Linked DNA regions of Homo sapiens: all the other regions are reported to be linked to region 5. Evidence: microRNA targets listed by miRTarBase, many of them from high-throughput screens and not tested one by one. Region 5 holds a microRNA gene; each other region holds the end of a gene's coding sequence.
The links. Region 5 holds the annotated microRNA hsa-miR-548z (CAAAAACCGCAAUUACUUUUGCA, at 1,381-1,403, opposite strand). A microRNA usually pairs through its seed, bases 2 to 8, with sites in the 3' UTR of a target mRNA and lowers its output. Matches are read on the target gene's strand: a 7mer-m8 pairs with bases 2 to 8, a 7mer-A1 pairs with bases 2 to 7 and ends in A, and an 8mer does both.

Region 1: miRTarBase lists ZNF829 as a target of hsa-miR-548z. Seed matches in the 3' UTR shown: 7mer-A1 at 606-612.
Region 2: the mRNA of ZNF681 is a reported target of hsa-miR-548z. Seed matches in the 3' UTR shown: 7mer-m8 at 2,443-2,449, 7mer-A1 at 3,208-3,214, 7mer-A1 at 3,464-3,470 and 7mer-A1 at 3,547-3,553.
Region 3: the mRNA of PRR3 is a reported target of hsa-miR-548z. Seed matches in the 3' UTR shown: 7mer-m8 at 2,144-2,150.
Region 4: miRTarBase lists ARLN as a target of hsa-miR-548z. Seed matches in the 3' UTR shown: 8mer at 872-879.
Region 6: miRTarBase lists TMEM158 as a target of hsa-miR-548z. Seed matches in the 3' UTR shown: 7mer-m8 at 3,186-3,192 and 7mer-m8 at 3,036-3,042.
Region 7: the mRNA of CMTM6 is a reported target of hsa-miR-548z. Seed matches in the 3' UTR shown: 7mer-A1 at 606-612, 7mer-m8 at 853-859, 7mer-m8 at 1,346-1,352 and 7mer-A1 at 2,148-2,154.

What each region holds. Positions count from the first base shown.
Region 1 is chr19:36,887,911-36,891,990 of GRCh38, reverse strand. It overlaps ZNF829 (zinc finger protein 829), which reads left to right. Exons shown (of 6, transcript NM_001037232.4): 6 at 1-3,867. The coding sequence ends at 499. It also overlaps a transcript of ZNF345 not described here. Among named protein-coding and RNA genes, the nearest start is that of ZNF829, 26 kb to the left of the region's middle. RefSeq lists an enhancer at 1-564.
Region 2 is chr19:23,740,170-23,744,169 of GRCh38, reverse strand. ZNF681 (zinc finger protein 681) reads left to right here. Exons shown (of 4, transcript NM_138286.3): 4 at 1-4,000. The coding sequence ends at 558. Among named protein-coding and RNA genes, the nearest start is that of ZNF681, 17 kb to the left of the region's middle.
Region 3 is chr6:30,561,719-30,565,798 of GRCh38, reverse strand. PRR3 (proline rich 3) reads right to left here. Exons shown (of 4, transcript NM_025263.4): 3 at 3,675-3,965; 4 at 2,076-3,410. The coding sequence ends at 3,304. Among named protein-coding and RNA genes, the nearest start is that of PRR3, 6.5 kb to the right of the region's middle.
Region 4 is chr4:119,295,186-119,299,257 of GRCh38, reverse strand. ARLN (allregulin) reads left to right here. Exons shown (of 2, transcript NM_001001701.4): 2 at 479-2,839. The coding sequence ends at 479. USP53 (ubiquitin specific peptidase 53) reads right to left here. Exons shown (of 19, transcript NM_001371395.1): 19 at 3,740-4,072. Among named protein-coding and RNA genes, the nearest start is that of ARLN, 3.4 kb to the left of the region's middle.
Region 5 is chr8:27,047,491-27,051,570 of GRCh38, forward strand. MIR548H4 (microRNA 548h-4) reads right to left here and starts at 1,473; the gene lies at 1,363-1,473.
Region 6 is chr3:45,221,459-45,225,538 of GRCh38, forward strand. TMEM158 (transmembrane protein 158) reads right to left here. Exons shown (of 1, transcript NM_015444.3): 1 at 3,008-4,080. The coding sequence ends at 3,667. Among named protein-coding and RNA genes, the nearest start is that of TMEM158, 2.8 kb to the right of the region's middle.
Region 7 is chr3:32,480,227-32,484,306 of GRCh38, reverse strand. CMTM6 (CKLF like MARVEL transmembrane domain containing 6) reads left to right here. Exons shown (of 4, transcript NM_017801.3): 4 at 210-2,995. The coding sequence ends at 347. Among named protein-coding and RNA genes, the nearest start is that of CMTM6, 21 kb to the left of the region's middle.

The DNA.
Region 1 (4,080 bases), not on the chromosome of region 5:
CTATGAATGTAAAGTATGTGGAAAAGCCTTTACTAAAAGTTCACAACTTTTTCTACATCTGAGAATTCATACTGGTGAGAAACCTTATGAATGTAAAGAATGTGGGAAAGCCTTTACTCAACACTCAAGGCTTATTCAGCATCAGAGAATGCATACTGGTGAGAAACCTTATGAATGTAAGCAGTGTGGGAAGGCCTTTAATAGTGCCTCAACACTTACTAACCATCACAGAATTCATGCTGGTGAGAAGCTCTATGAATGTGAAGAATGTAGAAAGGCCTTTATTCAGAGCTCAGAACTTATTCAACATCAGAGAATCCATACAGATGAAAAACCATATGAATGTAATGAATGTGGGAAGGCCTTTAATAAAGGCTCAAATCTTACTCGACATCAGAGAATTCACACTGGTGAGAAACCCTATGACTGTAAGGAATGTGGAAAGGCTTTTGGTAGTCGCTCTGACCTCATTCGCCATGAGGGAATTCATACTGGTTGAATGACAGTAAAGTAAGACCATTTTGTTAACCTTTATAATAATTTTTTTAAAACAGGTAAGGAGAACAAATTAGGATACATATTATCAAAGGTTCTCCTATGTATTCGTTTTTAAACGATACGATAACAAAGTACCAAGTACCAAAACCTTGGTGGCTTAAAACAAGAGAAATTTATTCTCTCATAGTTTAGAGCCTGGAAATCTAAACTCAAGGGTGCTGATCGTTTTGGTTCCTTCTGAGGACTCTGAGGATCTGTTCTATGCCTTTTTCCTAACCTCTGTTAACAGCTGGCAGTCCTTGGCATTCCATGGCTTTTACATACACCATTCCAATCTCTGCCTCCATCTTCACATTGCATTCTCGCTGTGTATCTCTGTGTATGTCTTTTATTTGGACACCAGTCAGGTTAGATTGGGGTTACCTGGTGACCTCATCTTAACTTGATTATATCTGCCAAGACCCTGTTTCCAAGTAAGGTCACATTTACCGGTACCAGGGGTTAGGACTTCAGCATATCTTTTTAGGGGATACAGTTCAACCCATAATACCCTGTTAGAATGATTTTGTCTAATATATTTGTAATTTCCTTTTATACATAAGTTGTTAGTCAAATTTATTTTATTTTATTTTATTTTGAGACAGAGTCTCGCTCTGTTGCCCAGGCTGGAGTGCAGTGGTGTGATCTCAGCTCACTGCAACCTCCAGCTCCTGAGTTCAAGCGATTCTTGTGCCTCAGCCTCTCAAGTAGTTGGGATTACAGGCATGCGCCACCATGCCCGGCTAATTTTTTTTTTTTTTTTTTTTGTATTTTTAGTAGCGACGGGGTTTCACCATGTTGGCCAGGCTGGTCTTGAACTCCTGACTTCAAGTGATCTGCCCGCCTCAGCCTCCCAAAGTGCTGGGATTACAGACGTGAGCCACCGTGATGGCCAAAACAGACTTTATACCAACAAAAATTAAAAAGGACAAAGAAGGTCATTTATAATGATAAAGGATAAATTCAACAAGAAGATAAAACAATCCTAAATATGTATGCACCCAACACTGCAACACCCAGATCCATAACACAGATACTACTAGACCTAAGAAAAGAGATAGACAGCAATACAACAATAGCAGGGGACTTCACCACTCCATTGACAGCACTAGACAGATCACTGGGACAGAAATCAACAAAGAAACTCTGGACTTAAATTGGACTCTACACCAAATGGACCCAACAGACATCTGAAGAACATTCTACCCAACAACCACAGAATATATACTCTTCTCTTCTGTGCATGGAACATTCTCAAAAATAGGTCATATACTGGACCACAAAGCAAGTATCAATAAATTTTAAAAAAACAAAATCATATCTAACATCTTCTCTGACCATAGTGGAATAAAACTAGATATCAATACCAAGAGGAACTCTCAAAACAGATACATGGAATTTAAACAGCTTGCTCCTGAATGATTTTTGGATCAATGATGAAACTAAGGTGGAAATTTAAAATTTTTTGAAATAAATGAAAATAGAGACAAAACACATGAAAACATCTGAGATACAGCAAAAGCAGTGCTAAGAGAGGATTTTATAGCATTAAATGCCTACACCAAAAAGATAGAAAAATCTCAAATGAATAGCCTAACGTCACATCTCAAGGAACTAGGAAAAAACAAAACAAACTCAACCCAAAGCTGGCAGAAGAAAAGCAATAACAAATATCAGAGCAGGCAAAAATGAGACTGAGAACAAAGGAATGCAAAAGATCAATAAAAGAAAAAGTTGGTTCTTTGCAAAGATAAAACTGACAGACCACTAGCTAGATTAACCAAGAAAAAAAGAAGATTCAAATAAATACAATCAGAAATGATAAGGTGATATTATAACTGATAACACAGACATATAAAATATCAGCAGAAACTATATGCACATATTAGAAAACCTAGAGGAAGTGGATAAATTCCTAGAAACACATAACCTTCCAAGATTGAACCAGGGAGAAATAGGAATCCTCAACAGACTACTGAGTATTGAAATTGAATCAGTAATAGAAAAAAATCTTGCAAAAACAAAAAGCCCAGGACCAGACAGATTCACAGCTGAATTCTACTAGACATGCAAGGAAGAACTAGTAACAGCACTATTGAAACTATTCCAAAAATTATAGGAGGGAATCCTCCCTAACTCATTCTACAAAGCCAGTATCATCCTGATACTGAAGCCAGGCAAGGATAAAACACACAAAAAAACTACAAGCCAATATCCCTGATGAAAATAGACACAAAAATCTTCAGCAAAATACTAGCAAACCAAATCAAACAGTACATAAAAAAGATAGTAACAGCACAGTCAAGTGGATTTTATTCCTGGGGTGTAAGGATGGCTCAACATATGCAACTCAATACATGATTCATCACATACACAGAATTAAAAATAAGCCAGGCACTCACACCTGTAATCCCAGCACTTTGCAAGGCCAAGGCGGGCAGATCACATGATGTCAAGAGTTTGAGACCAGTCTGGCTGACATGGCGAAACCCTGTCTCTACTAAAAATAGAAAAATTGGCTGGGCATGGTGGCAGGCACTGTAGTCCCAGCTACTTGGGAGGCTGAGGCAGGAGAATTACTTGAACCTGAGAAGCGGAGGTTGCAGTGAGCTGAGATAGTGCCATTGCACTCCAGCCTGGGCAACAGAGCAAATTGCTTGAATGTGGGAGGTGGAGGTTGCAGTGAGCCGAGATTATGCCATTGCACTCCAGCCGGGGGAGCAACAAAGCCAGACTCCATCTCAAAAAAAAACCAAAAAAAATCCTATTTAGTACAAGGTACATTATTTAGGTAATGAGTCCATTAAAAGCCAACACTTTCCCCACTACACTATATGTGTATGTAACACAACTGCCCTTGTAACTTCCTAAACCTATAATTAAGAAACAATAAAAGGCAAATTAAGAATGCTTTTTTAAAAGGTGGGGGCATTATGCTAATAAGTTACTGTGGATTTCAGAGTGCAGAGTAGAAAGATCACAAGAATTTAGTGTGGTAGGTGGGAACAGAAAATGGGTGTATAAATTTTATTGACGTGGGAGTACTGGATATTGTAGAGACAGATATCATCAGGGCAAGGAGATTAAAGATTTTTGCATTGACGGTTTGACACTATATTGTGGTAATAACACTGTATGTGTTGGGAGATAGAACAGGAAACATCTTCCCTGGAATATGTATACTATTAAATGTTTTATCAAACTTTTGATCAAACAAGACAGCACAATTTATAATTTCATTTCTATTTCTATGTTATGAGAAACTGATCATTTATTCAAATGTTTAACAGGCATGTTCATGTTACTATAAACTCTTCTGTTTCACCATCACGTTGTTGGTCATCTTTACTGATTACAAATTTCTTTACATATTTAAGAAATATATATATTTCTTTATATATTAAGGTTAGTGTTTGTCATATGTTGTTTCAGTAACTTTTCCTAATCTTTTGGCCTCTTTGGTATTTTTTAATAAGCAGAAATCTTTTTCACATGTAGTAAAATTTACAGTTTTTCCTGTACACATAACTATTATTTTTTCTA
Region 2 (4,000 bases), not on the chromosome of region 5:
CAGTTCTCAAACCTTACTACACATAAAAGAATTCATACTGGAGAGAAACCCTACAAATGTGAAGAATGTGGCAAAGCTTTTAACCAGTCCTCAATCCTTACTACACATAAGAGAATTCATACTGGAGAGAAATCCTACAAATGTGAAGAATGTGGCAAAGCTTTCTATCGATCCTCAAAACTTACTGAACATAAGAAAATTCATACTGGAGAGAAACCCTACACATGTGAAGAATGTGGCAAAGCCTTTAACCATTCCTCACATCTTGCTACACATAAGGTAATTCATACTGGAGAGAAACCCTACCAATGTGAAGAATGTGGTAAAGCCTTTAACCAGTCCTCACACCTTACTAGACATAAGAGAATTCATACTGGAGAGAAACCCTACCAATGTGAAAAATGTGGCAAAGCTTTTAACCAGTCCTCAAACCTTACTGGACATAAGAAAATTCATACTGGTGAGAAACTCTACAAACCTAAAAGATGTAACAGTGATTTTGAAAACACTTCAAAGTTTTCTAAACATAAAAGAAATTATGCTGGTGAGAAATCTTAGAAATGTGAAGAATGTAACAAAACCTTTAAAAGTTGTCACACTTGATTGTGCATAAGATAATTCATACTAAAAAAAAACCTACAAGTGTGAAGAATGTGGCAAAACTTTTAACCAATGCTCACACCTTATTGCACAGGAAAGCATTTGTACTAGAAAAAAATTTCAAATATACAGAATGTGAAAAAGCCATTAATATCTGTTCACATCTTACTCAACATCAGAGATTTCATACTTAATAAAAGCATTATACATGCAATTACTGTCAAAAATCTTTCAGAAAATATAAGCCTCTAAAGTGAAGAGTATTCATTTTGAAGACACACATTATGAACATAAGGAGGGTTGTGGTACCTTTACTTGTATCACAGATCTCATTGTACACATTTTGTGCTAGAGGAAAACCATGGAGCAGTTGCTTAAACTTTGTGCAACATAAGGAAATTTATATTGGAGAAAAACCCTGCAAATGTAATAAATTTGGGAAAACATTTTTTCAAAAACGACAGCTTAGAAAACACTAGAGGGTTCATACTAAAATCTATTTTTGCAGATGCAGTAAATATGAAAAAATATTTAATCCAAAATTCTATGTAAATATCAGATAATTCACAGTAGAAATAGTTAAGGCACTGACACTTCAGGCATTACACTAAATCAGATTGCTGAGTATAGAAAAGAATCTAAAACTAAAGTTGGTAAATGAATTATTTGTATATAACATTATAAGAAGTAGAAAATTTTTGCAGAGTTGTAACTACATTCAAACTATCCTTTGAAAAAAATTAGGTTTTATGAAAAGTGAATAATGTCATTTAACTCAAGTTATGCTCTTCATTCCTATTGTATTCACATGTGAAAGCATGTGACTTAATTGTTGCTGCATCAAAGATGAGAGATTCTTTGTTATTAGGTGTGCATTATTTACGACCTTTTTTAGTGAAAGAGTTAAGGACATTAAAATGTAAGATGCAAGATGAAAATGTAAGTGGAGAGGCTCTTTCTGGTTAATTTATAATATTGACTGATGCATGAGGTAGGAGTTCAGATAAATATCCTGTGTTATATTGAGAAAAAAAATTTTCTGGTATATCATTTTACTAATTGTACTTTTTTTTTTTTTGAGACAGAGTTTTGCTCTTGTTGCCCAGGCTGGAGTGCAATGGTGTGATCTTGGCTCACCAAAACCTCCACCTCCCAGGTTCAAGGGATTCTCCTGCCTCAGCCTCCCGAGTAGCTGGGATTACAGGCATGTGCCACCATGCCCGGCTAATTTTGTATTTTTAATAGAGATGGGGTTTCTCTATGTTGGTCAGGCTGGTCTCAAACTCCCGACCTCGGGTGATCCACCCACCTCGGCCTCCCAAAGTGCTGGGATTACAGGCGCGAGTCACCATGCCTGGCCAATTGTACTTTTATGTAATAAAATGTAGTACATTTTAAAATTTTTAGATAATGTGTGAACTTATTAATCAGGCTTTTTAAAAAACATGTTAAGACCATCGTGCATTCAATGAAGCATTATTATGCCATTAAATTTAACTTATCCCATCTTACTCAAGGGTATAGGTAAATGATGGTAACTATACACTATTTAATAAGATAATGGACTAACATTTCTAGTAATCTGTTTTGCCAGTGGCTTTAAATTGCAAATAAGTCAGAGAATATTATTCCTGTAGGTTGAATTATTACTCATTTTTTCTTATTTAAACTTATTTTTCTTAATTTTTGTGGGTACATAGTATGTGTAAATATGGCATATATGGCATATTTTGATACAGGTATATAATATGTAATAATTACATATGGGTAAATGAAATATTCATTACCTGCAGCATTTATTGTTTGTATTTGTTTGTATTATAAACTAATTCTGCACTTTTCGGTTTTTTTTTGAGACGAGTCTCACTATGTCACCCAGGCTGTGCACGCCTGGGTGCATTGGCGTGGTCTCAGCTCACTGCAACCTCCGCCTACTGGGTTCAAGTGATTCTTCCGCCTCAGCCTCCTGAGTAGTTGGGACTACAGGCGCATGCCACCACACTCAGCTAATTTTTGTATTTTTAGTAGAAACAGTTTCACTACGTTGGCCAGGTTTGTCTTGAACTCCTGACCCCATGATTAGCCCCCTCGGCCTCCCAAAGTGCTGGGATTACAGGTGGGAGCCACCACACCCAGCCACTTTTAGTTGTTTTCAAATGTACATTAAATTGTTGTTGGCTACAGGGTCTCTTTTATGGTCATAAGAAAACAATATAAACAAAATGCATACATTTCTGAGACCTGAATTAACATTAAAAAATTGTTATATATTTTTCTTCAAACATGTTGCCTCTCTGCCTGCAAGCACATACAGACTATTAGTTTTGATTTACACAGAGTTAAATATATACATATATTACTTTAAAGATAAAGCTTGGGTTTAAAAAAATTATGGAGTAAATAAATGCCTTCTTTGCGAGTATGAGTTTCTACCTAGTTTCAGAAGAGCAATATTGAAACAAATCAAATTATTTTAATTAGATGATGACTGCAAAACTAAAAAAACTTAAAAATGCTGAAAACAAATCCATACTCTCTGCTTTGTATTGAATTGATTACTGTAAAATTGTATGGCTTATAATTCAGAATCTCCCTATGCAAATTTTTGTTTTTACTTGCCTGATTCTTAGGCTAGACCCATAATTTTCTTGTGTCTTACATTTTTTTCTCTTATTTTATATAAGATGCTATGTGAGCTGGTCAGAGATTATAAAAATAATTTTTATAAAATTAGTGCAAAAAATTTAGATTTAATTTCAAAATTAGTGTATTGTTATATTTTATGTTGTTAGAATATTTTATTTTGTTCTTTTAATTGGAGAACGCTGTATAAGCCTACTTTTTTTAGTTTTTGTTCCTTTCAGTTTTTATAATGAAAATAAGTAAATATTGATTGAGCCCATTTATTTAGGTGAGTACTAGGGGGGCTTCCTAAATCATGAGGATGTTTTTATATATAAATATAGCAAACAAACATGACAGTGCTTTCTGTGTCACAGATGCTTTATAATAAGCCATAAATATTCCTGTTGGAGTTAGTTTGTAACTTCAAGACAGAGATGGAACATATCAATTGTGAGAAATAACATTGATTTTTTATGTGGAGAGGACATTTATTTTCAGGCTGCAAAGCTCAGTTTTGCTGAATTAAAAAATTGTGCTTCTTTTATTTCCTAATTGTCTTAGTTTTGTTTGTCTTATTATGTGTATTTCAGCTGTGTATGCATCACAGCCCTCCTTTTTGCTGTGCTGTGGCTACAGTTTTCTCACTGTTCTCTTCACACCATGTCATTTCACATGGTATATTGTAGGTTTTGATGAGAAATCGGTATTTTTAATGCACTGCAAGATTGGTTTTAACTGGAGATTTTGCATATCAATATAATTTTCTGATCAGTTA
Region 3 (4,080 bases), not on the chromosome of region 5:
AAGATTAAGAAGTAGTCATCTTTCTGACAGCATCTAAGCCAGAACAATTTCCTGTTTCTTTTGAAATCACCAAACACAAACCCTAATCCTGTCATTCCTAGCCCCCTTTTAGGGAGATAACCTCTGTAGAATTAATAAACTCAACTTAAATGCTTGCCCATAAGTTGAGGAGTTATAAGTTAACTTTTAAGAAGTTTCTTCCGGCTGGGCGTGGTGGCTCACACCTGTAATCCCAGCACTTTGGGAGGCCGAGGCAAGCAGATCACCAGGTCAGGAGATCGAGACCATCCTGGCTAACACGGTGAAACCCCATCTCTACTAAAAACACAAAAAATTAGCTGGGCATGGTGGTGGGCGCCTGTAGTCCCAGCTACTCGGGAGGCTGAGGCAGGAGAATGGCGTGAACCTGGGAGGCGGAGCTTGCAGTGAGCCAAGATCATGCCACTGCACTCCAGCCTGGGCGACAGAGCTGAGACTCCGTCTCAAAAAAAAAAAAAAAAAAAAAAAGAAGTTTCTTCCCAGACAACTGGTGTTCTCAGCCCTTCCTCCATCCTGAGGCTTTGAACATGGATGAGGAAGCCAGAGCTTCACTTTGGACAGTGAATAGAAGCTTGTGGTTGTGAATCTGAAAGTTGGGGGTTGAGGTTCTGAATACTCAGGGACCTTGTAGTGGTGGCATTGTCACACATCTTGGATTGTTGATTGTCCACCTCTTGACCTGTGAGAGAAATAAACTTCTATCTTTTTAAAAATTATTTATTTTTATTTTTATTTTTTATTTATTTATTTTTGAGATGGAGTCTTGCGCTGTCGCCCATGCTGGAGTGCAGTGGTGCGATCTCGGCTCACTGCAAGCTCCGCCTCCTGGGTTCACGCCATTCTCCTGCGTCAGCCTCCCGAGTAGCTGGGACTACAGACGCCGGCCACCACGCCTGGCTAATTTTTTTTCTATTTTTAGTAGAGATGGGGTTTCACCATGTTAGCCAGGATGGTCTTGATCTCCTGACCTCGTGATCCACCCACCTTGGCCTCCCAAAGTGCTGGGATTACAGGCGTGAGCCACCGCGCCCAGCCATAAACTTCTATCTTAAGACTTCTTTTTAAATGGCAGTTACATAAGCCAGAACTACCTGGAGAAATCTGATACTTTTATTTTGACCTGTAATTTTCAAATGTCTACTTTTCTCCAACTCTACTACCCAAGTCTATGTCACCATCATGGCTCACTTGTACTACTGAAGTAGCCAGTAGCCTTCTAATTAACTTCCAGGTCCAAGGTGGGCCCTCTCCATACAAGCTGATTTTTTTTGAAAAGCCAGCCTAAGCCATGATACTCCTGTCTAAAATTCTTCAAAGGCTTCTGTTCTAAGAAAAGAGCCAAATCTTCATGTTTTCCAAGGCCCTGAGTGGTCTAACTCCTCTTTCTTCTGCATCATCTCCCACTGTCCCTAGGTTTCTTAGCTCCTCTTCCCCTAGGTCTTTTAGCGAAGACCTTTGCCTTGACTTCCCTCTCCCACCCCACCTCCTGTTTATCCTTTGGAGCTTGTCTCAGTTGCATCTCCTACCCTGACTCCCTTTATTACACAACTCTCTTTCACCCTCTTTTCTTCCCTGTCTTCTTCCCAGCACTTTTGACAGGTTTAACTTTACATGCTATTTGTGATTATGAGAAACCTGTCTTCCCTGTACATTTTAAATCCATTGGCTTTGGCTGTCAGTTATCTCTAGTGCTTGGTATATTGCCTGGCCCACAGGCATTCTGCAAATTGCTGCTGAAAGACTCCTTCATCATTACCACTCCATAAACACAAACTCTGCAAAGTAAAATATTTAAAAATAACTCCACGGACACCTGGCCTTTCCTTTTTCTTACAAAACTTTGCCCTTGAACATAAGGCAGCTTGTTCTGGTTGATGCCTACAGGCTAATGGAACCTCCATTGGTTTTTTTCAGCCTGGAAGAACCTTAAGCTTTGTCATTCCCCATCACTAGTGTGTATGAACTAAAGAATAAGCTGACTCCACCAGGTGAGAACAGCTTCATCTGCAACTCCAGAGATGACTAGAACACAGGGATTAAATAAAATGCTGGTTTCCACTGCATTTATTACTAATATAAAAAAAGTTAAAAAGAAAAAAAAAAAAAAAACCTCATTCTCAGTTCTCCAACAGCTCTCACCCCTCCCTCTTGCCAATACAACTCCTGACCCATTTCCTCAGGGCCAGTTCAAAACTGAACCTGTTCACTGCTGTTTTCACAGAAAACAACCAGTGCCAGGGATGTAGGGGAAGAGGATTGGAAGAGGGCAACAGTACTGTCCAGCTTCTACCCAAAGATAGGCAAGGTGGAGATTCACAGAATTCAAATGAATGGACTGGTGGCCTCACAATGACATAGTCTAATTAAAATGGGCTGGAAGGGATCTAGGTAGGATAAAGCCATTGGAGGCTTTATAAGACATGTCATGGGTCTGTGTCAGACTCAGAATAACCAACAGGAGAAGAATGGGGAGGGCCAGGGAGGCAGTCTGATGGAAAGTTCACAATTCTCCCATGTTGGGAAGTGGGAAAGTCCAGAGGGCACCAAGCGCCTCACTCATTTTGGCAGGAAAACTTATTCTAGTGCTGGGAAGTCACAAAAATGCCACGGACACTGAGAAAGGCTACAAGGGGATGCACAGTTTCACAAAGCACGGTGATCATAGATAGACCATAGCGGTGGGGATCATGCTACTGACAGAGAAACTATGAAATCCAAAGGCAGGGAGAGTGGCCTTTTAGGAAGTAACTCTGCACCAGTCACCCAAACTTGACCCCAGGTTAGACAACCTGGCTGAGTTTCACAAGCAGCTGACAACATTGGGGGTAGGGAATGTCACATAAAAAGGACTTAAAACAAGCAGCTAAAAGAAGGGAATGGTAGGAAACCGCTCCAGGGCTCTCAGGAATTGAGGGCAATACTGGGGAACAGGTGGACAGATGCACAAGAAACAGCACCAAAGAGGTTTCCTGTTCAGCAGTCATTTGATGACGGGAAAGAAGATCCAGGAGGCAACTGAAAGGAAGCAAAGATGGGTCCCAAAGGCGAGTCTCTACAGGCTGGATCAGAAGAAAGCGCGTATGCCGCGCACCAGTGATGCAACACCACTCTGGACCCCACACGGGGGAAGTGGTGGATGGGATGGGTGTGTCACTGACTGAGGGTGTTAGAAGAGCCTCACAGTAGCCATCATAGGGCTACAGAGAAATAAATGGCCGCTAGGTCACAGAGAGCTCCTTCCAGCCTGGATGGGAAGGCACAGTCTCACAGAGGAGGTCCATTGACGCCTGGATGGTAGAAGGCACAGAGGTCCTCATATCGACAGTGGCCCTTTTTGGCAAAATGTCGGCAGACAGGGCGGTCGGATTTGTCTGTGAACAAGTGAAAATGGAACAGTTAAAAATTTGAGCAACAAAGAAAACAAATACAATGAAACGCAGAGACAGAAGGAGAACTGATTTTCTACCCCCTACCATTTCCAGGTATTTTGGAATGGTAGTCTTTCTCCTGGGAGAAATAACATTGAGGTCTACTTCTGCTTCAAAAGCAAAAAGGAAAGCCCAGAGAAGATTGTGAATGATCTTCTGAAAATTAGGTCACTCTGGGAGTAATGGGCATAACAAAATGGACCTCACCTTCCATAACCTGGGGGTCATCCTTGGGCGGGCAGGTATTCTTGATAAGAGACCAGCTTTTGAGCCTTCGAGGGTTTCTCTGTTCCTTGTGAAAGCTTCCCCTGGTGGGACCCCCATGGCCTGGCCCCGGAAAAGGAGGTTCTGCATTGACTCCCCACCAACCACGACCATATGGGCTAGACCTGGGGCCAAGCCCTCTCCGAATTGGGCCTCTACCCCAAGGAGGAGGTGGGAGACTCAGCAGTGGTGGAATCAGTGGTCCCCTTGATCCTGGAGGACCTCTGTGAAGAGCTGGAGAGAGAGAGAGAGAGAGACACAGAAAGGTGTCTAATGGGCAGCTGAATCCTGATAAACCGTGATTAAAAAAATTTTTTTTATTGAAGAACAGCATACATAAAGACACACC
Region 4 (4,072 bases), not on the chromosome of region 5:
AGAGAGGGCCAGGCACAGTGGCTCACGCCTGTAGTCCCAGCTACTTGGGAAGCTGAAATAGGAGGATTGCTTGAGCTGGGGAGGTCGAGGCTTCAGTGAGCTGTGAACGTGCCACTATACTCCAGTCTGGGAGACAAAGCAAACCCTGTCTCAAAAAAAGGGGTGGCAGGGGAGCGAGAGGGATTAATGGGAGGATGGCAAAAGGGATAGGGATTTCTATAAAATTCTCTGTCAAGCCATTTGTAAAGGGAGAGTTTTACTCTCCCTCCCTGTTTTGGTAGAGACTGATAATCTCAAATACAGTGGGTTTTGTGTGTGTGTGTGTTTTTATGACCTGAACTTTCAGCTCTGGATAGAAAATAGAGGCCTTACAAGAAATGTTCTAGGCTTTTCTTTTTATCAATATGTAAATAGGCATAAAGTGTTAAAAACTGGGAAGATAAAGCACATATTGCTGACAAATACTTGCTTTTTACAGACTTGTTCGCTGATATCTAAATTAAGAAGTTGGTTCTTGAGTGAATTCTGAAAATGGCTACAAACTTCTTGAATAAAGAAGACAGGACTCTCAATAGAAGAATTTCACATCTCCAAGGGACCCTTCCTTTCATTTTACACTTTGTTACTAATTTGCAGAACTCTATTAATTGGGTAGGATTTCACCCATTCCTAGCTAAGTTCTTAAAATTAAACCCTTTGGTTCGTGTTTAAAAACTTTCAAACATCTGATGGCTTTACAGGGGCTGAATATAAAAGCATTTGTACTTAAAGGTCTTGTGTATTCATTAAGAAATATAGTAATGTCTTTTAATGTTTTAAGAGTTGATCAGGGTTTACTATGATGCAAGTAATAGGATGATTAATAAGGGAAGGTTTTTATGAATTCAAAAGTCAATTATTCAAAAGCAGGGAAAGATTTTGAGAGAGGGAACAAAGTATTCTTAGATTGCGTAGAAGCTGCTAGGTTCCAGTTTTAATTTTTAGGTTTAGTTGGACTCTGTTATGAAAAGATAGGTTATGGGTGGGCGACAGGTTGATACAGTCTTAGAAAAAGCAGGTAATATCAAAGTATTGGAAAGCTAGCATGCATGCCCTCTTACCTGGGTATCTTCCCCCTTTTTTCCTTTTAAACTCTTGAGCCTCCTATAACGAAGGATTATGTGTTTCAAACCTATTTTTTTTTTACTGTTTCATTAAGTGTGCTTGTGCCCAAAATATTTACTTGTATAATATCTGTAACTTGCTTAAATACTTCAGCAAAGTCAGCATATTTACTCATTCAACAAATATTTGAGCCAGGCATTATTTTAGACACAGCAGTGAACAAAACAAAAAGGCATTCTTGCCTTCATGGAGCTTACATTCTTATTGTTATTTAAATCTAAATGTTATAAAACAAGAATTTATATTCTAGGGTTGATCAGCTAGTATTTAATCAAAAAGGCCACACTCCCATAGCAGCTACTCTAAGCTGTAGTAGCTAATAAAAAATATTAATGTTGGCCGGGCACAGTGGCTCACGCCTATAATCCCAGCACTTTGGGAGGCCAAGGGTGGTAGATCACTTGAGGTCAAGAGTTGTGACACCAGCCTGGCCAACCTGGTGAAACCCTATCTCTATTAAAAAATACAAAAAAATACAAAAAAATTAGCTGGGCATGTTGGCATGCACCTGTAGTCCCAGCTATTTGGGAGGCTGAGGCACGAGAATTGCTTGAATCCGGGAGGTGGAGGTTGCAGTGAGCCAAGATGGGGCCACTGCACTCTAACGTGGGCAACAGAGACCCTGTCTCAAAAAGAAAATATTCCTGTTAGCCCTAAAGGCTTTACATGAGGAATGGTAGAAGTGGTCTTTTGTTTAAATTAGTTGCATTCAGCATATATGAATTGTCTTAAATATTTTGGGGATACTCCCCCGCCTTTTAAACAGGGCATAAGATCTGGTAAACTCTCTGTATATCTTCCTACCTTTCAAAATCGTTCTTAGGGTTAGTCAAGTCTGGAATATAATTGCTGACTATAAAGTTAGCAATTATGCTTTTAAGGTGTTGTCACATCAACCTAAAGAGAACCATCTATGGAAGGTATGGTTGAAACATCTGTAGGAACACAGAACTGGGATTTCACTGAGTTTACCAAATCAACTGTGTGAACTGTTTCTGCACTGCTTGCTAATGGTTTCATCTAATAAATGTTTACTTATATAGCTGAGTTTGGTTTTATTCTAACAAATTACCTGGTGGTGTGATTGTGAGGTGATTAACAGTTCTCACATAGTTTACTGTTAGGTCACACACAGACTTCCGATCATAATCCATACTGCCTTTTTGAGCCTAAAATCAGCCTACTACCACAATTACCAAATATTCTGAAAATTTCTAGTATGGTGAAGATGGAGAGATCTTGGTGTGAAGGTTAATTTTATATGTCATCTTGATTATGCTAGGAGATGCCCAGATTTCTGGGTTTGTCCATGAGGGTGTTTCCAGAAGAGATTAGCATTTGAATCAGTAGACTGAATAAAAAAGAGCCACCCACTCCACTGCGGGTGGGCCAACCCCTTGAGGGCCTAGCTGGAATAAAAAGGCAGAGGAAGGGCAAATTCTGTCTTCTCTCTGCTTGAACAGGGACATCCATGTTCTATCCTTGGACATTGGTTCTCCTGATTCTCTGGCTTTCAGACATGGACCAGGGCCCCTGGTTCTCAGACCTTTGGGTTTGGACTGGAACTACACCATTGGCTTTCCTGGGCTTACTGTCTGCGGAAAGCAGATTGTGGGACTTCTCAGCCTCCATAATCACAAGAGCCAATCCCTCATAATAAATTTATTTCTATATATATCCTGTTGATTCTCTTTCTATGGCAAACCCTGACTTAGTAATATGACATGACTGTAATTGGCATTTTCAAAATGGTGGCAGTATGAAGGCTGAATCTTTCCTATAGGTAAGAAATTGTACCTACCATTAAACTGTGCCATAGCAAGTATAGTGACTGCTTACATTGCCCTCAGTTTGAAGGCTTTTAAGAAGTGGATAAATGGAACGCCAAGAAAAGTTGCAAACTTGCTAAGATAACAAAACAAAAAAGACATCAAAAGAAAATGTGACTTTACTCTGATAAATTCTTTTGTAAATTTCACACCATTTTATATAAAGTGAAATGATTGTTTTAGTAGTTCCTTTTGAAATGAACTGGCTTGTTAGCAGTTGCAAGGGATAGTTTTTAGGGAGCTTAACCTGAACGTTTTAGGATGTAAAGAGCTGCAAATACTCAGTCCGTAAGTGGCATGGGAGTACATTTGGAGACTTCAGCCTGTGAGCTAAGAATATTTTTTACATTTTAAAATGGAGAAAAAAAAAACTTTCATGACATGAAAGTTATATGCAATCTGGATTTCTATGTTGACAAAGTTTTACTGGAAAACAGCCATGCTCATTCATTTACATATTGTTTATGGCTGCTTTCACATTACAAAGGCAGAGTTGAGTAGTTATTACAGAAATATTATGGTCCACAAAGCCTAAATTATTTTCTATCTTTATAGAAAGTTTGCCAACTCCTTTTCTAAGGAGCTGTGCTTTAGACCTTGCTGGAGTTTAACTCCTAGGATCTCCTGTGATAACCGTTTATGATCAGTGAAATTCCAAGTACCCGCGACTTAACATGTCCCAAAATAATCCACGTTGGTGGGAGGGTGACACACAGTTCATGAATGCAAAGAGAAGTCCAATCATATAAACTTAAAAATCAGTTTATCTTAAAATTTTTTTGAATTAGAAGAAATTGATTTCACATGAAAATATAACATTCTGAAGGTAAGTATTTTAAACATTACAACTGTTGGCTGAAATATTTACAAAGTTATAATAAGCTTATAACTGGATGAAAGCATCTATAAAAATAAATAGGCACCCTAGATGTAAAACTTTTACATGAAATAAAATGATTAGTATATATGTATCAATCTGTATCTGGAGTGTTGAATCAACAAAAATAAATGGGCATTTTCTAGTTTGTGTAGTAGTACATGAGTCAGGAGGTTTCAACTGGACAGTACTTAAAAGAGGC
Region 5 (4,080 bases):
TACAAGTGGAAAATGCAACAGCTTTAATCCTAAGATTCTTCCTAGATTCACAATATGTGTGTGCCCTGGTCCCAACCCCTCCCTACTCCCCTCATTTGCCCCCAGGCTTCGTGAAAGTGATAGCAGAATCAGCCATGCTGATTCCTCAGCCCAGTGCACTGGATGGAAGTTAATGCCCAAAACTGATTTATCTTCCTTGAGGCTGGGAAAAGGGATGAGTTGGGAAAGCGAACAACTAGAGGTGTTTATGAAGGAGGAACATCTGGGATGCCCGTGGTGGTAACGTGGAGTGCTGCAAAGAGGACTATAGAGAAGGAAGGCAAAATGCTGTTTAGAATCCACAAACGTGGAATCAGTGCATCTCATTTGCTGGCTCTTACCATAAAATGAGCATCAGTATCCCTGCCCTGAGCTTGGGTAGCTTATCAGAGAAGATCGCTGACACTTTTGGAGCCCATCTGAATAGCTCCCTCTGAAGCCATCCAACTTGACCATGATCTGGACTTCCTACTAGACCAGTATTTTGCCTTTGCCTGATCTTTCAACTTCAGCTTCTGCATTTTCTTCTAATTAGCCCTTTCTTACCCCACCAGCACTGCCAAAATGGAGACTTCCTGTCCCAGTCTCAGACCTTGTGGAATTCACACCTCCCCTTTCCATCACCACCTCCCAACCCTGCCACAATATGGACTACCTGTTGTTACGTTGAGAAGATTAAGACTACACAGGCAGTTAGTTTAGGGAACACCTTCTACAGTTGGTGAAATCTATTTTTAAGATCATGAAATGTCATACTACTGCCATATATACTAATTTCCTCCTCCTCCTTTCTCTAAAACTGTCACTCAAGATAAAAGTCAGCTGGGCCGGGCAGGGTGGCTTACGCCTATAACCCCAGGATCTGGGGAGGCCAAGGCTGGCGGATCACCTGAGGTCAGGAGTTTGAGACCAGCCTGGCCAACATGGCAAAACCCCATCTCTACTAAAAATACAAAAATTAGTCAGGCATGGTGGTGCACACCTGTAGTCCCAGCTACTCGAGAGGCTGAGGCTGGAGAATCGCTTGAACCTGGGAGGTGGAGGTTGCAGTGAGCCAAGATCACGCCATTGCACTGTAGCCTGGGCGACAAGAGTGAAACTCCATCTCAAAAAAAAAAAAGGGCAACTGGTGAATGCTGGGAATATGAATATCAGGGCTTGTGCTTGTTATTTTGGGGAATGACAGAAGACAGACCCAGGCAGTGTTTTTTCCCTGCATTCATCCTTTTTTCCTTTTTCTTTATTTCCCATTTATTTTATTTAAGTGTGATTTAGTTTGTACAACATTTATAAGAGGAATGGAAAATAGACAAGAAGTGATGATAGCAAGTATTAGGTTGGTGCAAAAGTAATTGCGGTTTTTGTCATTAATGAAACGTAAAGTAATTAAAGTAATGACAAAAACCGCGATTACTTTTGCACCAACCTAATAGCTTTGGAAATGGAACAACGAAGGATCACAAGTTTGGCTTCAAGTTTTCTGTGGTACACTTGCCACAAAAAGCAGGGGGCAGAGGAAACTTTTGGAGGCGATGGATATGTTTATCATTTTGATTGTGATGATATCATGGGTGTATATGTATACCCAAGCTCATCAAATTGTACACATGAAATACATGTGGGGTTTTTCTGTCTATCAATTTATACTTTGATAAAGCTATTAAAAAGAAAAAGGCAGAAATGAGCTCAAATTTTAAACTGTCTTTATTCTTTCATTGAACAAGCATTTATGAAGGGCCCGCCATGTGCCAGCTCTGTGCGAGATATTGATGTGACTCTGGGAAGGCAAGCATTGTCCCCAACCCTGCACATCTATCAGGGAAAGCAGAAGCAATTGCCATCACGTGCTAGGACAGGGAAGTTTGGCACCATGGAAACGTGTAGCAGGGGCAATCCTGGTGTGGGGGTGGGTCAGGATTGTAATTCCCAAATTGGAGACTGACTCACACAGCTATCAGTGACAGGCAGAACAACCTCCACAGACTTCAGCCAGAGGGGGGAATTAGCCATTTTCTTTTATATCACCGTTTTATTCACACATCAGCATCCCCTCATTCCCATCCACTTATTCCTGAAAGCAGGCCCTTTTTGAGGCTCCAAACATAGTAATTAAACAAAGGGGATTCTAGAAGGTGGACAAAGCATTAGAGACAGCTTCATTGTATATAAATGCCAAATTTTCTGCATCAGTAAGGTTGCAGCTGTGACAAGAATTAGGCTGCTTTCTAGGTCATATATTTTCTAAAGCACTAGGCAAAAAAAATATTAACACATGAGGGGAAAAGAAATAAATAGACTCAATTGTTTTAAAACCTTATGAGTAGACCATTTTTTAATAATACAATGAATACTGCTTATTGAATAAACAAAGAAATTATTTGTTAATATAAAATAGAGCCACATTCTCTGGTTAAATCGTGAATGTGTAAAAAATTAAGTTCTCAATTTAATCTGTTCTGCACAAGATTCTGAATGAAAGATTAATTGGATATAATGACACTGATATTATTTTCTGTATAATAATAATTCTATACATGTTTGGCAATTTATAGTTGTAATTCTATGAATCTGAATTTTTAAAAGTTAACTACAAATAAACAGTCTCTGTAAATGAGATATATGGGGTAGGAGACTGCTTACATGGGTATGGCTAAAGCATAAATTTGAAATAATATCTGATTCATATCAGAATTTATCAGCCTGGGCTGGATAATGTTTAGTCACAGATGAGACACAGATAAGAAAATTAACACCAGATTGGTAATTAAAAGTGCTTCCTGGGTATGAATGACACCTCTGAATGCAGCATGAAATAATTCCTTTTGTATTCTGCTCCACGTTTTCTTTCATCTTGTGTTTGGACATTAGCCACAGAGGGATTGATGTTTACCGCAAAGAGCCTGGAGTCAGAAGATCTATATTCTGGTCTCAATGCTGCTAGAAGTTAACTGTTAGATTTTTAGAAAAAATAAGTTCTAATCCTCTGTTCAGCTTGCACATCTGCAAAATGAAGATACTTTTTAAAGCAAAATTGAGAAAGAAATAGAACAAAATTATGCATGCAAAAATGCGGTGAAAATTTTTAGTTAATGCAAATATAAAATATCCAAATAGTCTATGCACAAATATATTTATATATCATAACAATGGAAACTAAATTATAATTGAAGGGATATCAAAAATAGAATTATAGTATTGAAACAAATAAAAGCCAACAAGATTGAATATGTGTGTTTGTGCACGTATGTTTTAAGTGGTGAGATACTTCTAGATATTATGTTGTTAACATATTACCAAATTGTTTAACTCATATATGCGTATAGTTTTTGGTAATATGAAACTGTGCATAGAAGGAGATGATCAGTAATTTATTTGGCTGTCTAGTACATGTTGAGTCACTTCTCCATATAAAAAATTAATAAAGAAGGCTAATAAATGGGCTCCTCACGTGAGGGCTAAAGACAAAGACAGATGCAGACGCTTTGTTCCTGAAACCTCTAGCTTGGAATATGTTATAGTCCTGAGACAAAGCCATTCACAATTAATTCCAATGGTAAATCTCAGTTGAGCCTCGGGGGTGTGAAGGGGGACTGATACAGCATAGTCGGTTTGCCATAAATATGCCTAAATCTATAAAAGATTCATCACATTAAAAGAGGTTTTTTCTGAACACTATGCTCATTTATCAGATTATTTGGAGATTATTTAGTATGATAAAATACAGAAAATACCTCACTACATTTGTAAAATCTTTTCAGAAATCAATTTCTAAGTTTTTAACAAAAATGTCATGATAAGACTTCTAGTACTATAAGATGTCATAGACCTTCTGGTATAGGCACAGCAGTCTGAACAAACACCGAAATAAGAGGGGCACCTTAAAATCTCTAGTCAAACGGACTGGTAGAAACCTTCTATGCAATCTCAGTCTACTAAGAAGTAGGTTTCTACCTAATGTAAAAAAACCAATACTGAAAATCAAGGAAAAGAAAGAAATAGGAACAAAACAAACAAACAATAAGACAAACAAACAAAACAAAC
Region 6 (4,080 bases), not on the chromosome of region 5:
AGTAGAAATGTGTGATCTGTGTAAAAGAAATGCAAATGAGGCCGGGCGCGGTGGCTCACGCCTATAATCCCAGCACTTTGGGAGGCCGAGGCGGGCAGATCATGAGGTCAGGAGATCGAGACCATCCTGGCTTACACGGTGAAACCCCGTCTCTACTAAAAATACAAAAAATTAGCTGGGCGTGGTGGCAGGCGCCTGTAGTCCCAGCTACTTGGGAGGCTGGAGCTGGAGAATGGCGTGAACCCGGGAGGTGGACCTTGCAGTGAGTCAAGATCGCACCACTGCACTCCAGCCTGGGTGACAGAGTGAGACTCTGTCTCCAAAAAAAAAAAAATGCAAATGAGAAGCATTTTTGTGATGTGCTCCTCATATGTGCCTAATGACCACATGGCTAGAACAATTCTGCACGTTGTTGGGTAAATTGCCTGTCACAGGTGGGGTTCCTCAAGAAGCAGTCTGTGAGATAGAGATCACTGTGCAAGAGGCTTATTAGGGAGTGTGGATTAAGGCCTGTGGAAGGGAAGGAATGGGAGGAGGCAGACGTGGACAGAGGGAGTAGTTCAACTCCATGAAATCTCCATGGACACCTCAGCCAGCCCTGAGGGAAGTCAGTCTTGAATGGAAGAGGGGCGGGCGCTGGAGGGTAGTGGAGGACCCTTCAGAGCTGCCCCAGTTGTGGCCAGAGGGCTGGGTCTTTCTGCCCCTGTGTTGATCAGTCATTGGATGTGGTGCCCCAGGTAGGAGGTGCGGCTTTAGACAGGGTGGTCTCTTCCGCTGAGGCAAGACCCAAAGAAGACTAAAGTGTTCAGATCTGGGGCTGGAGGCAGCTCTCTGGATGAAAGCAGAAAACTCAGTAAGGCAGCCTTCGGCAGCAGCTGGATATTAAACAAGGGGTATCCATTCTCCCCAGGAGTAAACTTTCTCTCAGGAGAAGCAAAAATAACTGACAATGATGATTTATCCTGGGGACTCCGCTATATCATTTGCAACTCAAGCTGGCCCCACGAAGCTTTATAAATGGGCTGGAATCTGGGGGTGCCATGTGCACATGTACACAGGCTAAAATGGCACACGTCTTTTCCTGTCATAGAACTCCTGACTTATCCTTAGTAAATTACGTACTTGGAAGCGTTTCACTACTGAGATGATGCAAATCAAACTGACTAGAAAATACAGACCCCACAGATGAACTTGTCAAGGCCTGACTTCCTTTACCCAGTGGGCGACTACAGCTGAACAAGATCAAAAGGACCTACAGGCTCTGTCCTCACTTTCTGGGACTAACTAGTCCATCAGTGATACACACACACACACACACATAGCCCAGAACACACATGCACACATGCAGGTTCCACTGGCAATTCTGAAAGTCAATAGATGTTGATATTTCAATCACCCCTAAAAGGTAGATGTTAGGGCCCATATATAGAAAGTTCCATTAAGTGCCTGAGTGTCTCATTTAAAATTAATGCTATCAGGTTCTTTGGGGTTTGTAGCTACACAAAATCTGACATTGGCTAGGGTAGGTCAACAAAACGGTGGACCTTGAGCAGTGAGCTCCTAATTTTCCTGGGAAAAGAAGTTTCTAGTGACGAACAATACCATTCAGGGAGGCAGAAATCCTGGATTTAGTCTCAGCTCTGCCTCGTGTAGCTGTGTGATTGTAGACAAGATGCTCAATCTCTCTGAGCCATGGTATACATCTTGGAAAAAAGCAGGGAGAGTGATTACATGTGTGTACAAAGAATACATAATGTGTCTCCAGAGTTATAAATGCTATGATTACATTAAATTGATCAAGGTTAGCAAAATTATTGACTTTTCTCCTGCCAGTTACCACAGGGTTAAAAAATGGTGATGCTTACAACCTACAAAGATCAATACTCCACCCTCTCCCCTCTCAGGGGCTGGTACCTGCTACAGATATCTCAGGACCTCAAAGAGTCAAAGGGGCAGCTGAAGCTGCAGGGCAATGACCCAGCCTCTCCTTCAGCCAGATTGCTGGGAAAATAAGCATCCCATTTATTTGATATAATAGACATCTCAAGATAAAAGGAGACAACCTACATTTGAGGGTTCCATTCCACTAGAACACAGCAGAGCAGTTCTCAAACTGGTAATGCATAGGAATGCCTTGGAGGGCATGTGAGAACACAGATTGCTAGGCTTTATCCCAGAGTTTCGGATTCTATAGGTCCTGGGTGGAGCCCAAGTTTTGCATCTCCAAGTTCCCAGGTGATGCTGATGTTGCTGGTCCAGGGACCAGGCTTTGAGAACTATAGCTCTAGACCAATCTCAGATATGCTTGCAAAATGAGGACGAGATGGAGCAAGGGAAAGCAGCTTTCAAAGTCTCTTAAAAACGCTTTTAAAATAATTTTTAATATTAAGTCTCTTTAAGGACTTTTTACTTATTCTTCTGAAAACCTGGAAGAATTTGAAACTACTACACAGCAGACACTGTAACATGGAAACCAAGAGTGAGGAAAATCTTGTGATCATTAACTATTTATCCCCCAAGAGTTTATCTTTTTAAAAAATCTAAATGCCAAAATAATATCTCAGGTTTTAATACCAGCTTTTGGAATGTGCTTATCTGCTAAAGTTCATGCATATGAAAAGAAATCTACATGCCTTTTAAAGTGAGTCATTTTCGTGAAAGCCATCCAGCTCAGAGGAACTATTGATTTTACCATTTTGATGCTTGCCTGGGTGTTTTGCAGAGCTTAGAACAATGAGCAAAAAGTTAAATCATATAAAACTGTGTTTGCCACCGTGACAGGTGGGGGGTGGATGGGAACTGAGGGTCAGTGTGGTGAGATGCAAGACAATCGCCATCAGGGCAAATAATACTGTTTCCATCTATCTCTCACAGCCAGGTAAAGGAGACAGAAGTAGCCCTTCTCTAACTTTTCCGAGATTCCCTTGCTCAGGTTTTAGGGTAACGTCTTGCAATTCTGGGATTCCCTTTCCCAAATCAAATAAAGAAAAAGCTACATACACATCTCTGGAGGAAAATGTCTGTATTAAAAGCCAAAAAACCACATAAGTACAAGAAGAAACGCCCACCAGGCCACGTCACTGGATAGATCAACTTGGAAAAGGTTCATAAAGTTCATTTTCAGCGGTAACAATATATCGGTGTTAAATCCTTCCCATGCCCTCCCCCCAATTTTAAATAAATTAAAAAACCACAAATTTCAAATACAACTATGTTCAGATACAAAGAGCTTCTCTTACTACAGCAATAGCAATTTAATCTTTTTGTTTTGTATTTTTTTTACTAAAACTTTCATTTAAAACAGTTATTAAATATATAAAACAAATACACAGGATTTGGTCATTTTCTGCCATGAATCTAGGGCACGTGGGTGCGGGGAAGGAGTCGGGCAGGGGGATGCAATAGAGGGGAAAGGGCCCCATTTCCCTCCTCTCCGTCTTCGGAGCTGCGATCCCACCCTCAGTCCAAGGGCTTAAACATCTGCTTTTCGGAACTGGAAGCGCAGCACAAACCTTGCTTTTCAAAGGCGCTGGGGTCTCTCGGCGGCCCCATCTCGGGAAGAGGAACTAACGATAACTACAGCACGAAGCACACCGGCCGAGTCTCCGGCGGGAAAGGCACCCGCGCGCGCGGACACAGGACGGACACAGGGAGGAGCGGAGCGGGTCACTTGGTCGCCACCCCCGAAGTGACGGCCGCGGCGGCGGCGGCAGCGGCGGCGGCGGCGGCGGCTGCGGTGGTCCCTGCGGGCACTGCGGCGGGGGTGGCTGCGGTGGTGCTGGCGGTGGTCCGGCGCTGTTCCATGCCGTTGGGCAGGAAGCCGGCGATGATGGGCACCGGCCAGATGAGGGCGGCCACGCTCCACACCACGATGACCAGGGTCATGAAGCAGGCCACCAGCGTGGACTCAATGGGCTTACGGTTCAGCCGCCAGCCCGGCTCGCCCTGCAGCTCCTCCAGGCTGAAGTCTAGGCAGCAGAAATGCAGCGGCTCGCCCTGCAGCCACAGCGGCCCGGGCGGCTCGGCCGCGGGGTAGGCTGGCAGCGCGGTGGGCGCCCCGGCGGTGGCGGCGGCGGCGCT
Region 7 (4,080 bases), not on the chromosome of region 5:
TAATAGCCATTATTCTGGAAGTTTTTCTTTTATAACTTCTTTCCATTTTTTGATGACTTAAAAAAATTTTTTTTACCATTAAAGAGTAGTCGTGTATAAGATAAAATTCATGAACATCTTGTTTATATGAAACATTCTCCAAGCCAAGTAGGAAATGTAAGATTATATTCCAAAATTCTCATATAACCTTTCCTCCTTTTTTTCCTCAGGTGTTTGGATTTATAGCAAGTTTTATGTTCCTACTTGACTTTATCACTATGCTGTATGAAAAACGACAGGAGTCCCAGCTGAGAAAACCTGAAAATACCACTAGGGCTGAAGCCCTCACTGAGCCACTTAATGCCTAAAGACTCTGGGGAGCAGATGTTACCTAAGGTAGTGACCCTGCATTGTGGTGCCTGAGCCCTGGCAGAAGCTCTTGTAAAATTTGTTAATTGTTTAAACCACTTCTTTTGGAGAGCAAGGGGAAGGTCAAGAAGGCAGTTTTATCAATATTGTGTCAGTCACCACAAAGTAGGCCAGATAAGTTAAAAAAAATTTTTTTTTAAATAATAATTGAAACTTATCTCAAATGGAGATTTTGGTGGGAGGAGGAGAAAACAATTGTTTTTAAATCACACAGCTCAACGGTTGATAAATGATTCTGTCATTCTGTTACAGGTCATTCTTTTACTAGGCTTAGCTTCCAAATTATGCTTTATAGCTGTATAAACATCGTGATTATATTCATCTACTTAGAAATTGTTTTATTTTTAAATTAATTTGCTTAGCTGTTTGTTTTGATGCTTAGATTATGTTCTGTTAATGGGAATTTAACATATTTAAGAAACCAATATTTAAAATGTTGGTCTAGGTTTTTTTCCTTAACATATATTACCAGGCTTTACTGTATTTCACTCAGCCTTAAATGTTATAATATTTTTGGATAACGGTTATTAATTCTTTGAGACCTTCGTATAGCCTATAAAATGTATGGGAGATGTTGGTATTTTATGTGTATAAAAGCAACAATATCAGCAACTTCGTGTTTATACTGCACCTTGGTTGTTGATGTCAAGTAAAAAAAAGATTGTTTTGTAACACATAAAAAAATGGAAGAAACTGATACCACACCTAAGGACCAAAGATAAGAAAGACTTTTTGCCCAAGACAGTGAAAGTAATTATAAAAACAAGCTTTGACCACTTACCAAGTATCTGAAGAGATGAGTTCATACTATGATTTAGAAAGTGGTTCAATTCCCCTGTTGGCATATGATTATTTTTACTAAAATTAATACAGCTCTGTGGGTCTTCCTTAGTGTTTTCTTTGAAGCCAATCTGTTTTTTTTAGGACACCAGCCTTTGGTTTTTCATCTGTTCGAGATGCCTCTTCTCTGTCTCCTTATCAGATAGAAATGGAGTCATGTGCTGCTGCTTCATCTAGCAGAGGTTGGCCTCTGGCTCTGACACTTTTTGTCAGTTGTCTTTAGGTGGTCCTGAATCTTGGGCCCTTTTGATTGTGAATACTGTGTAGCAGGATCTTGAGAGTCCTTGTTCTTACATAGGCATTGCTCTAGTTTGTCTTTGGCAAAAAAAAAAAAAAAAAAAAGTAAATATCCAGGGAACCCTGCCCAGACTAATACTGTTGGTGGCATAAGAGAATCAAGCCATTCTCAAGAGATAACTTCATAACCAGAATTGTCTGTTGGCTAGCAGCTGTCACAGATAGGCAGGGCACTTGGGATATGACCTTTCTGTCCAGGTGATTCACAGACTAGACCTTTCTTATCCTCCTCCTAGAGTTTTGACTTGGGACTCTAGTGTTAAGATGATGAGCCCGTGCATCAGGTCCTTCTGCACTTTGGTGGAAGTCTCCCAGGGTAGGTTTCCTATTTGAAACAGTGGAATCATGTTTCCAGTGATAAAGTTTAATGACCTCATCCTTTTTTTTTTTTCTCATCTGCCATTTGTGTGTCTTAGATGGGTTTTAATTGCATGAATGTGGCTAATGTGGTTCTCAGAAATTGGTCAGTATGGCCCAACATAGCTTCTGCTCTGTCTTACTGACTCAATACCTTTAGGATTTGTATCAGAGTTTGGATACTAGTGTTAGTGGTGGTGTCACCACTACTTAATTGGGAGATAATGAAACCAATCATGGATGCTGTTTTTATTGGGCATGTCATCTAAGAGAGGAGAAATAGCTGGGTTTTGGGTCTAATTATGAATAAGGACTGATTCAGAAAACGAGTTTATGGTAGGTAGACTAAAGTTTCACATCAGACTGTACCATTGTGATTTAGACCTATCTAAAATTCAGAGCATATCATCTGGGCTACCTCAGGGTCACCACCCATGTATTGGGCTTAGTCAGGATTGACAGATACATTCTCAGCTGGCCTGTCATATAAAACATACTGTCATTGAGCTTAAGCTCCGCTTGTTCTGAGGTTTCACCTCCATGTGTTTCATTGGTGCAAAAGTGGATCTCTTAGTTGGTCACTTAATTCTTTCTTTTTCAGAAAGATAGTATGTTCACTGGTATATTTGGTCACTCTTAGAACCTTCCTTCACATTGTTTTTTATGGGACCCATGAATGGTTAGCCTTTCTTTTCTATTGTAGAAGGAAATAAATAGGAGTAAAAAGACCATTGTAGTAAATAAGTTCAAGGGGAACTTGGGACCAGAAACCACTGTTATGTACAAAAAAATGGCAAATTCAATAAACTCAAATTTAAAATAATTTTTAAATTAACAGTTATGATAAATTTTATATTTTATACAAATAGATTGCTTAGAATGGTTCTCAAGAATTATAAGAGAAATGAACTCACAGTACAAAAATTTTATAATTACTATACTTGTGTTTTGTTTGGGGGCTGGGAAATGTATTTTTACATTGTAGCCAATCATTTTATATTTGTCAATTTAAATCTTATGGGTCTTTTTTTTTTATCTCTCTTGATGTCAGATTTTATAGTCTTTTTAAATAAATCCATTTAATTAAAACGTTCTTACCTTTGTAAGTGTTTATTACAGAAGTGTGATGTTTAAATGAAAAGCTGTCTCTGTAGTTGTGGGAGTTGGCTGCACAATCTTGTTGAGTGCCTATATAGAATACTAGATTTTAGATATATCTAGGATAGAAAAGAAACAAATCCATTTCCCATCCATAAACTGTCCCTCTTGTTGGAAAGTTAGAATACACATTTAAACAACATTTTTAGGGAACCACAGAGGAAGACTTACAAATGGCTTTAAATACTTCCAAAGAAGCAATTTAGACTCCTTGTCACATTTCTAGATGTGGCTAACAATGCTAAAAACAAAATAGGCACATTATCTTAGGAACTGTTCAATGATTGGGAAAGTGTGAAGCAAAATTATTAGGGTGGTGCTGGTAAAACTACAGCTATTTGTGTAGTTTGCGAAATTCCTGCCTCCACCCTGTGTGAGAATAACAGGGTCTTTATAGTCATCAAGAACTCACTGGAATTTGTACATTCTTCAGAGTTTAGAGTTGAGTTTTGTTTTGATAAAGAGCATTGTATCAATATGCAATAAGCTGCAAGAAGCAGAAAATCTAATTAAATGTGTCTTAAACAGTAAGAAAAACTTATTTCATAAGACATCTGGGTACATTGGTGAATTCAGTGGCCAAATTTTTCTACAAGTACAGTAATGTGTGTCATAGAAATTGATATAATAAAGGGGGAGGCTGGGCGCAGTGGCTCACTCCTGTAATCCCAGCACTTTGGGAGGCCAAGGCAGGCGGATCAGCTAAGGTCAGGAGTTCGAAACCAGCCAGGCCAATGTGGTGAAACCCCATCTCTAGTAAAAATACAAAATTTAGCTGGGTGTGGTGGCACATGACTGTAACCCCAGCTACTTTGGAGGCTGAGGCAGGAGAATCGCTCAAACCCCAGAGGCGGAGGTTGCAGTGAGCCGAGGTCATGCCATTGCACTCCAGCCTGGGAAACAAGCGCAAAACTCCATCTCAAAAAAACAAACAAACAAACAAAAAAACAACGGGGTGGGGGGAGAAGTATTGTCTTTTCCCCAACATTTTTATATTTAGCTACTTTTTAAAATTTTTGA